Linked DNA regions of Homo sapiens. The protein of the gene in region 1 purifies or fractionates together with the protein of each later gene. This does not show direct contact. Each region holds a gene or a part of one and is shown in the gene's direction. Other genes may lie near its edges. The genes, in order: CYP19A1, SGK3 and UGT1A7.

The links.
Region 2: the proteins of CYP19A1 (region 1) and SGK3 purify together in Homo sapiens (affinity purification with mass spectrometry, with the first as the bait; one large-scale study listed by BioGRID). This does not show direct contact.
Region 3: the proteins of CYP19A1 (region 1) and UGT1A7 purify together in Homo sapiens (affinity purification with mass spectrometry; one large-scale study listed by BioGRID and IntAct). This does not show direct contact.

What each region holds. Positions count from the first base shown.
Region 1 is NC_000015.10:51,227,054-51,230,713, reverse strand, and holds part of CYP19A1 (aromatase), read left to right. Parts: intron 1-2,780; coding exon 2,781-2,935; intron 2,936-3,660. UniProt on the Homo sapiens protein: A cytochrome P450 monooxygenase that catalyzes the conversion of C19 androgens, androst-4-ene-3,17-dione (androstenedione) and testosterone to the C18 estrogens, estrone and estradiol, respectively.
Region 2 is NC_000008.11:66,845,188-66,848,847, forward strand, and holds part of SGK3 (serine/threonine-protein kinase Sgk3), read left to right. Parts: intron 1-2,005; coding exon 2,006-2,161; intron 2,162-3,660. Other genes in the region: C8orf44-SGK3 (serine/threonine-protein kinase Sgk3), read left to right, coding at 2,006-2,161.
Region 3 is NC_000002.12:233,768,876-233,771,485, forward strand, and holds part of UGT1A7 (UDP-glucuronosyltransferase 1A7 precursor), read left to right. Parts: intron 1-2,610.

The sequences.
Region 1 (3,660 bases):
CTGGGAGGTGGAGTTTGCAATTAGCTGAGATTGCGCCACTGCACTCCAGCCTGGGCGATAGAGTGAGACTCTGTCTCAAAAAAAAAAAAAAAAAAAGAAGGCACCAATTAGTCCATTAATTGCCTCCTCATCACTGTTGAATCTGCCCACAAGTGTGTGAATTGTTTAATCCCAGAACTCAGGTGGCTTTCTTCTCATCACCTAAGAGCTTACTCCCTGACTACTTTTCATTTTGAACAGACAATAGGTTTGCCATCTTTGGAGATGTCTTTTATCTTCAATCATGCTTAATGAGGGATAATAACCCTAGTGATCAGACACCCAACGCTGTGCACTGTCCCTGCTGAGGCTGGGGACTCAGCTGGACTCTCCTCAGTGCTAAGAAATCCTCACTCTCCCAAATAATCAGTATAACACTTGCCTCTGGCAGTATTGCAGGCTGGCCCACAAGCCAGAGCCAGGCCTGTCTTGACTGCCAGGAGGAGCTCTGGGCTGGGGTCCTTAGTTCATCACTGACCTTCTCTTCACTTTTCTGATTTACTCTGGTTAGATAAATCCAGCCTACTTTTAGTAAGTGACCTTGTTTTAAATTGCTCATCTGTGGCCAGTCACACATCCCTTGCTTTATCACATCGGCCTGATTAGCTTTGTCCCTAACAAGCCTGAGCTTTGGATTCAAAATAGCTGAGAAGTTGGTGCCCCCTAAAGGACACAAGAATTTTAAAGGTTGGCTCTTTATTACTAATAACTAGCAAATATTTCGTTGGGTTTGTTTTATGTTTGGAGTTTCTTACTCTCTTTTTAAAACTGATTAGCAAGTTCTTAAATGAAATGGACAGGCCAATATGATTAATGCAGTATGCAAAAGCCCCAGGGTCAGAGCAGAAAAATAGTGTTTGTCCTTTAAGTGCTTAAAATTTTTAAATATTAGTTTGTGAATAAAGAATATATAAATTACTTAATTTCTGCTTTAATTATAGAATGATGGAGGGGAAGGTAAGTAAAGCTAGAGTTTTCAAATATTTTAATTAGTAAGAATTTCATTCCTTCCTATAGCATAATTTTTCTATATATGACAAAATTTGAAACGTCAGACAAATTCCCCAGAATACAAATGGAAGCATCTGGATTTTTATTTATTTATTTATTTATTTTTGCTAGGGAGAGGCAAACATGTCCAAAACTTAGGATTATTTGATGAATATTATCTGGAATCAGATCAAGAGAATATTTAATAGTGTTTTTATTTGAAAATAGGTGGTTTTTCCTGAAATAAATATTAATAAGTTATTTATACAATAACTCTGCTTTTTTTTTTTTTTTTGAGATAGGATCTTGCTCTGTCACCTAGGTTGGAGTGCAATGGCTTGATCATGGCTCACTGCAGCCTCAACCTCCAGGGCTCGAGCTATCCTACTGCCTCAGCCCACCAAGTAGTTGGGACTACAGGCACACACTACCACACCTTATATATTATATATTATTATACAATAATAATCCTGTTCTAATTTCTTGACACTACCATTATTTCAGGGGCTTACTTTTAAAGCTTAAATAGGACTATGGAACACATCGCAGATGTGAGAGCTGGATTAATACTTAGCCCACAACCTAATACATTGAACCAGAGCAGCGCTTTTTTGGTCTAGAGTCCTCTGGGAATGTATTTCAACAGGCATTAACTGAACAACCTCATTAAGGCAAAAGTATCCTTTTAGGAGCCAAGTGTCAACTAGGAGATGGAGGAGCAAGTCTCTCCAACCTGAGAACCAATTGCAGATATTATAGTAACCACTTGCAATCTTTGAGGGTTATTTGTTCTGAAAACCTCCATAGTGGGAGAATTTGCAGCTGTGAAACAAAATTTCAGGAGACCAGAGGAGAGGGAGGACCAAAGTTGCAATTAATACATGAAATTTTGTATAAATATTAAGTTCACCAAGAAAGTAACAACAACATCTAAAATCAAGATAATACCAATGACATCTAATGCATCTTGAATTTGCATAATTGAGCATCATGCAAATTGCCCTGTCTCATGACTCATCACATCCTGTGTCGTGGGAGAACTCTGTGACCCTGGAGACTTTGATGAGTCATGATGGAAGGCAGAGCCCCAAAATAGCTTCCTTTACTACCACAGTGAACTTTGCATGCCAGTCCAGCCAGGCGCTGGCCAAGCTCAGGGCTAGAAGAAGTGCCCAAGGAGATATTTTTCAAGCCCTGACTGATACTCCACTGGAGGGGGCAGGCCTGATTAGAGACTGGAGTTGGGTGGTACTAGGCAAAACTGCTGGTTCCAAAATAGGAAAACAAGACTTTAGTAATTCCACAAACTTCTGATTCTGTGGCTCACTCTTGTAGTGGGTGGCACTTTGTGGAGTGAGGCTGGATGATACCTGGGAGGCTGGAGGTTCTTCTGGCTCTGGTGGTATGGAGGGTTCAGCTTCTTAGCAGCCTTGCAGCTCTGACTCCAGTAGTGGGTAGTATTTTGGTGAGGTTAGAGAAGAAAGAGAAGTAAGGAATGGTATATGGGTGTGTGTGTGTGTTTTCTATCTTTGGTGATGTTGAAACAGGGAGTCAGTAGGTAGAAATGATTCAACTGGAGAAGGATGTCCTCATGCTAACAGAAGTGCTTATTCAACCCGAATACTAGAAATCATGCACATTGCATTTGGAGCAACATGCATTTGCTAAGAGAGCTACCTCCTAGTCAAAATGTACCACCAGGAGTTCTCCTGACCCTTAAAAATTGACACCAAAGTTTCCTGTCTTTTCAGGTCCTCAAGTATGTTCCACATAATGAAGCACAATCATTACAGCTCTCGATTCGGCAGCAAACTTGGGCTGCAGTGCATCGGTATGCATGAGAAAGGCATCATATTTAACAACAATCCAGAGCTCTGGAAAACAACTCGACCCTTCTTTATGAAAGGTAAGCAGGTACTTAGTTAGCTACAATCTTTTTTGTCTATGAATGTGCCTTTTTTGAAATCATATTTTTAAAATATTTTATTTATTTATTTATTTATTTATTTATTGAGACAGGCTCTGACTCTATCACCCAGGCAGGAGTGACCTTGGCTCACGACCTTGGCTCACTGTAACCTCCGCCTCCCAGGCTCAGGCGATTCTCCCACCTCAGCCTCGCGAGTAGCTGGGACTACAGATGTGCACCACCATGCCTGGCTAATTTTTGTATTTTTTGTAGCGATGGGGTTTCGCCATATTTGAGACCAGGCTGGGCTCAAACTCACGGAGTCAAACGATTGACCTGCCTCGGCCTCCCAAAGTGCTGGGATTACAGGCATGAGCTATCATTCCTAGTCTGAAATCATATTTTGAATTCTACTGCAATAAAGGAGGAAGAGCTAACATTCATTATGCCTTTACTCTGTTGTAGCCATTGTTCTAAACACTTGAATGGCAGCCCCATGTGGTAAATGTTGTTATCTCCTACAATTCACAGAAAATGAGGTTAAGTAACTTGCCCAAGGTCCAAACATTAGTAAATGATAGCCCGGAATATAGCCCTGAAGCCTATATTTCTTAATCACCACAAATTCTTTTCTTCTTATTGATGTGCAAAGCAATTTTATAGGCAAAAGAAGAGATGTAGCTATATATTTAGAGTAATTTCAGTTAAGAATTTAGCATGTC
Region 2 (3,660 bases), on another chromosome or scaffold:
CAGGAGTTCAAGACCAGCCTGTCCAACATGGCAAAACCTCGTCTCTACTAAAAATACAAAAACTAGCCTGGCACAGTGGCATGCCCCTGTAATCCCAGATACTTGGGAGGCTGAGTCAGGAGAATCACTTGAACCTGGGAGGCGGAGGTTACAGTGAGTGGAGATCATGCCACTGCACTCCAGCATAGGCAACAAAGCGAGACTCCGTCTCAAAAAAAAACAAAAAACAAAAAAAGTCATATTTTAAAAGATAAGCTTTTTCTTTCCTACACAAAGGAAAGGAAAAGTGGCAAGCCTATAAAACTCCCTTAACTTTAAAAATTATGTATACTTTAATTTTTATTTTTACTTTTTTTGAGACAGAGTCTCACTGTGTTGCTCAGGCTGGAGTGTAGTAGAATGATCACGACTCACTGCAACCTTGACTTCCCAGGCTCTGATGCTTCTCCCACCTCAGCCTGCTGAGTAGCTTGGACTACAGGCATGCACCACCCCACCTAGCTTGCTTATTTATTTATTTATTTATTTATTTATTTATTTATTTATTTATAGTAGAGACAGGGTGTCGCCATGTTGCCTAGGCTGGTCTCAAACTCCTGAGCTCTAGTGATCTGCCCACCTCAGCCTCCCGAAGTGCTGGGATTTCCAGTGTGAGCCACTGTGCCTGGCGTCACTTTTTATTTTGTAAACTTCTGTATTGTTTGGATTTGTTACAACAAGCATATATTACTTTTGTAATTTTCACAAAAAGAGACTGAAAAGAAAAAAATGTCATTTTAATGTTTTAAGTCAGATTCATCTTATTTTATAAAAATACTGGTAACTAATATTTAAAAGGTAAAAACAAACCCACAAGGGTAAAATATTAGAGACCAGTCCTCTGGTGAATAAATTGGGTTTTTTTTTGTTTTTGTTTTTGTTTTTTAAAAAAGAACAGTAACATTTTACATGGTAATTCCCTCTTTGGAAAAATGTTTCTGGTGCTCTGGACACATTAATTCAAAAGGAAGTAGTTTTGTAGGTTACATATTACAACCTTGCAGATAGAACCTGAGTAGCATGATAATCTTCTTTCCTCTTATTCCCAGAGTACAGAAACCTGTACAGCTCATTTTTTTTCTCAAAAGTTGTTACTTTATTTATTTGAGATGGGGTCTCACTCTGTTGCCCAGGCTGGAGTGCAGTGGCGCAATCTCAGCTCACTGCATCCTCCGCCTCCCAGGTTTAACCGATTCTCATGCCTCAGTCTCCTGAGTAGATGAGACTACTGGCGTACACCACCATGCCCAGCTGGTTTTTTATTTTTTCAGTAGAGACGGTTTCACCATGTTGCCCAGGCTGGTCTTGAACTCCTGGCCTCAAGCAATCTGCCCACCTCAGCCCCCCAAAGTGCTGGGATTACAGGCGTGAGCCACCACGCCTGGTCTTTATTTTTACTTTAAACCTTTATAATTAGATGATTAACTAGCTAATGCTTGTGTTGAAGCTATACCCCAAGTCTTTTGGCTGTTGCGGTGGCATTTTTAATTCTGCAAAGTACAGTCATAATATTATCTCTGTCATAAGTACCTAAGAAACATTATCTTCAGGCCTCCATCTCTACTAGAAATCCCTTTGTTTCAGTGAGTTTATTCCCAAGTCTGAAATTAATGTTTGATCTGTCTTGAACTTCTATTTCCAATGATTCTGTCATTATGCCTATGATAAGGTTGGTGGTTTTCTCTAAAACAGGTACTACTACAAGTTGTATATAATTTAACAGCTGTCTACAAGGTGCTATTGAACAAACTGGCCCTAATTCATTCAGTGAACACTTATTAAGCTCTGTGATGTGTTCGGTTTTAGAATCTCTTTGCTTCAGGAAGCCACACTGCAGGTGTCTACACGTCCCAAGAGGTCCATACATTTTTTCAACTGACTGCTCCCTCAAGATTAAAGCCATTTTAACCCCATTTGCGCATAATTTGTTTACCACTAAGTTTATTTTGCTTTTTTTTTTTTCCAGCCTCCTTTTTATTGCCGAGATGTTGCTGAAATGTATGACAATATCCTTCACAAACCCCTAAGTTTGAGGCCAGGAGTGAGTCTTACAGCCTGGTCCATTCTGGAAGAACTCCTAGAAAAAGACAGGCAAAATCGACTTGGTGCCAAGGAAGACTTTGTATGTAACAGCTTTTCTAGCTCCAGCTTTATTTAAGCTTATTTAAAATTTGGAAATAAAGCTTTATTTTATATGGTATTTAATGGAATGAATACAATATGCGGAGAATAGCAACATGGAAAAAAAGCATACTTGTCTCCACAGTTTTCACCTGTATTTATATAAAACTATGTAGTATTTAAAGCACTTTCTGTTGCATACACTTTTGCCCTATCCACCACATACACTTTCGCACCCTATTATTTACTTGATTTTCATTTATTACAAATTCCCCTCCCCTTCTTTTTAAAAAGTGTTGTGTGGCATATTTTCACTACCTAAACTTTCTTTTGCTGTTTTTATTGCTAAATAATACTAACATTTTCATGAACTAATAACACAGAGACTAACCAACTAGTAAGCTTTTTGTTGAGGGTTTGGGACTATCTAAAGTCTAAATCATTTCCTTTAGCAGGAATTTGTTAAGTGCCTCCTGTCTGCATGAGGTAATGTCTTTTGCCTTGAACACTAAGTCACTTTTTTTTTTTTTTTTTTTTTTAAGAATTTGGTGAGACCTCCTTGAGATAATTAGGGAATCTGCATGTTTGTTTCAAATAAGGGTAATTAAATTTGTAGTGTAGTTACCGGCATTATGTTAGTGTGTCAGTAAATGCACAAAAATATTGAGGAATATGAACTTTTGAACTGCTTTCTCAGATATTCTTGGAGGCTGCTTATCAATTTTGAACTTGAGCTGTGAATAAAAGACTTTGCTGCTACTGCTTTACCCCTGCTCCCCAGTTCAGCTGGTAGCTCTGCCAACAACTTCCTTTCCGTTGTTCCAGACAGTCTTGCTAATATTTCACACCTCCTTGTCCCTTGGTCCATTTATTGAATTCATTGACAGAGATTGCAGCTCTAGATGAATCCAACTATCATCTCATGGGCTGCTGAACAGTGCTAAAGAAGGTAACAAACTGGGCATATTGGAAGCACTGTGAACCTCGTCTGTGCTTCCCCACTGTCTGGTAATACTCTTTGTTTCTCTGTGTAGCTTACTCTCTTCCTCTCTGTATTAACTATTTCACACCTTCTCTCCAGACTTCCCAGATTCCTTTTCTTCTTCTTCACTTTTAACAGATGATCTTGCCTTCTATTTTGTAAGGAAAATAGAACCATTAGAGTGGAGCTAACTTAGCTTCCTGCTATCAAATCCACAGACCTATATACACTTGCAGGATCCTGTCATTTTCTTCTTCGTATTGTAGTGGAAAAGGTCTGTTTCCACCTGTGCACTGTATCCTGTCCATTTGTAAGGAACCCTGTCCATGTTTGTTTGTTTTGCACAAATAACTGCTCCCCTTTTTTTCTGGTTCCTTCCAGTCAGTAATTAAATGTTATCAAATCTGTTGCTTCTTAAGCCAAAAAAACCCTCAGTCTTACTCTCCTGAGAGGTACTACTCTATCTCCTTCCCTTCTTAGCCAAACTTGTTGGAAGTTTTCTTTGTTCAGTCTCCCTT
Region 3 (2,610 bases), on another chromosome or scaffold:
GTCTGACCTGGATTTATAAATAAGATAATTTAGAGGTTATTATTCACTTTATAAAAGGATTCTTTAGTTTCTATATAATTTATCATATAATTTATTTAGAATTTTATTTCCCCCATTAGATTTAAAACTCCAATTTACATAAAAAGTTGCCATAATAGACATCTGATCCATAAGTTTCCTGCACAGAAAGAAATACTCCATTATAAGAAGCATAGTATCTTTAAGAGAAAAACAACTCAAATGCTTAGAAGTACAGCTTTTTGCAGCACTGGAACCTGTGAGAAATTTTGTCCATGGAGTTTATGAATGAAGGAGCTATAAGATATCACAGACAAAGTCTTAGAATAAGAGCAAAGGAAAATTTGCTCAAATGTGGCCCTGAAAACGATTCAAAGGGCAAATGATTTCTGGATTAAAGTTAGTATATTACTGTCAAGCTCACTGGTAATAGGCTTATTAGAACCTTATGGGAAGAAGTGGTGGCCAGTGGTAGATTTCATCCGACAATAGATACTGTGTGCATATGTGCGTGTGCGTTTGTGCATGTGGCTGTGCTCATGTGTGGGTGCACACGTGTGCATTCATATGCGTGTGTGTGTGTGTGCGTGTGTTTATGAGAGTGTCCATTGCTTTCTCCCATGGTTACCTCCTTTAGAAAGAAGCAGCAGTCAGGAAGACAGATGTGAAGAGCTGGAGCATGTTCAGATGAGAGGAGACGGAACACGGGGACACACCAGCTTGAGCAAGGGACAACAGGGGAGGACTGATGACTGACTTCCCACCTTTGAGGTGCTAATGTGTGTGTGGTGGCACTGGATAAAAGATCAATGTTGGCTAGGCACCATGGCACACGCCTGTAGTCCCAGCCACTCTGGAGGCTAAGGCGGGAGGATTGCTTGAGCCCAGAAGTTGGAGGCTGCTATGAGCCGTGATCATGCCACTGCACTCCAGCAACCTGGGCAACAGAGTGAGACCCTGTCTCAAAAAAAAAAAAAAAAATGAAAAGTCCACATAACCTGAGCATCATGTGCCCAGAGCGTTGGGTGGTGTGGTCCCATTCCTTCCTTCCAGCGGCTTCTTCTGGCCACCTCAATGTCAGGATGTCCTGCTCACATATCAATACCATTAAAACCTGACTTCTTTCCCTGCACTGTTGAAGCTCCTTCTTGAGGCTCACATTATGGATATAATTTTGATTCTTTCTTCAGTGGTATAGATAACTACTTGTAACCTAAGAACAACTTGGTGAAAGTCCTCTAATACATTATTTTTTAAAAAAACACAAATCAATGAGCTCAACTTATTAACTAACTTTCATCTATTCATTTTTGAGCCATCCCTGTCTGATTGTGAATCTCCATGATTCCAACACTCTGAGCTGGGGATAGTGCCTACACAAAATAAAAAGAAGTGGAAAATTTTCAAACATCAGTTTATGCTGACAACCAGGCCATAATAGGTGCTCAATTACTATTGAATGAATGAATGAAAGTTCTGGCCAGGTACGGTGGCTCATGCCTGTAGTCCCAACACTTTGGGAGGCCGAGGCAGGTGGATCACTTGAGGTTAGGAGTTCGAAACCAACCTGACCAACATGAAGAAACCTTATCTCTACCAAAAAAATATAAAAAAATTACCCAGGCATGGTGGTGTATGCCTGTAATCCCAGCTATTTGGGAGGCTGAGGCAGGAAAATCACTTGAACCTGAGAGGCGGAGGTTGCAGTGAGCTGAGATTGTGCCACTCCACTCCAGCCTGGGCGACAGAGTGAGACTCCGTCTTACTTAAAAAAAAAAAAAAGAAGGTTCCAAGAAAATTCATCTTAAGGTTTATGTAAAAGGAAGATGATATTTAACATGATTCATGGCCAAGTACTAATATTACATTATAATAATGTTTCCAAATAACATTATAGATATGTTTAAAGACAGTGTATTAGGCTGTTCTTGCATTGCTGTAAAGAAATACCCAAGACTGGGTAATTTATAAAGAAAAGAGGTTTCATTGGCTCGTGTTTCTGCAGGCTGTACAGGAAGCTTAGTGCTGACATCACTTGGCTGCCGGGGGAACCTCAGGGAGCTTTTACTCATGGCAGAAGGCAATGCGGGAGCTTGCATGTCACATGGCAAAAGCAGGAGCGAGAGAGAGTTGGGGGGGAAGGTGCCACACACTTTTTAATGACCGGCTCTCACAATAACTCATGAAAACTCACTATCAGGAAGACAGCACTAAAGCACAAGGGATCCGACCCCATGATCCAAACACCTCCCACCAGGCCCCATCTCCAGCACTGGGGATTACAATTCAACATGAGATCTGAGTGTGGACAAATATCCAAACTGTATCAGTCAACAGCGATCATAATTAGTCCTGAATAGGAGTGCCTTTTTTTTTCTTTCTTCTCCCTTTTCTTTTCTACTTCCTCCTCCTTTTCCCTCTCCTCTTCAATCTCCTCTTCATTCCTGTAGCACCAAGGGTTGAAGCACCTAACCCGTTTTGGATTGAGATGTTCTGATTGGGCAATGAACACTGTCCAGAATAAACAGAAATCCATTTTGCACTAAGTGGCTGCACAGACCCTGCCTCATGCTAAATCTAGCACCCAGATAG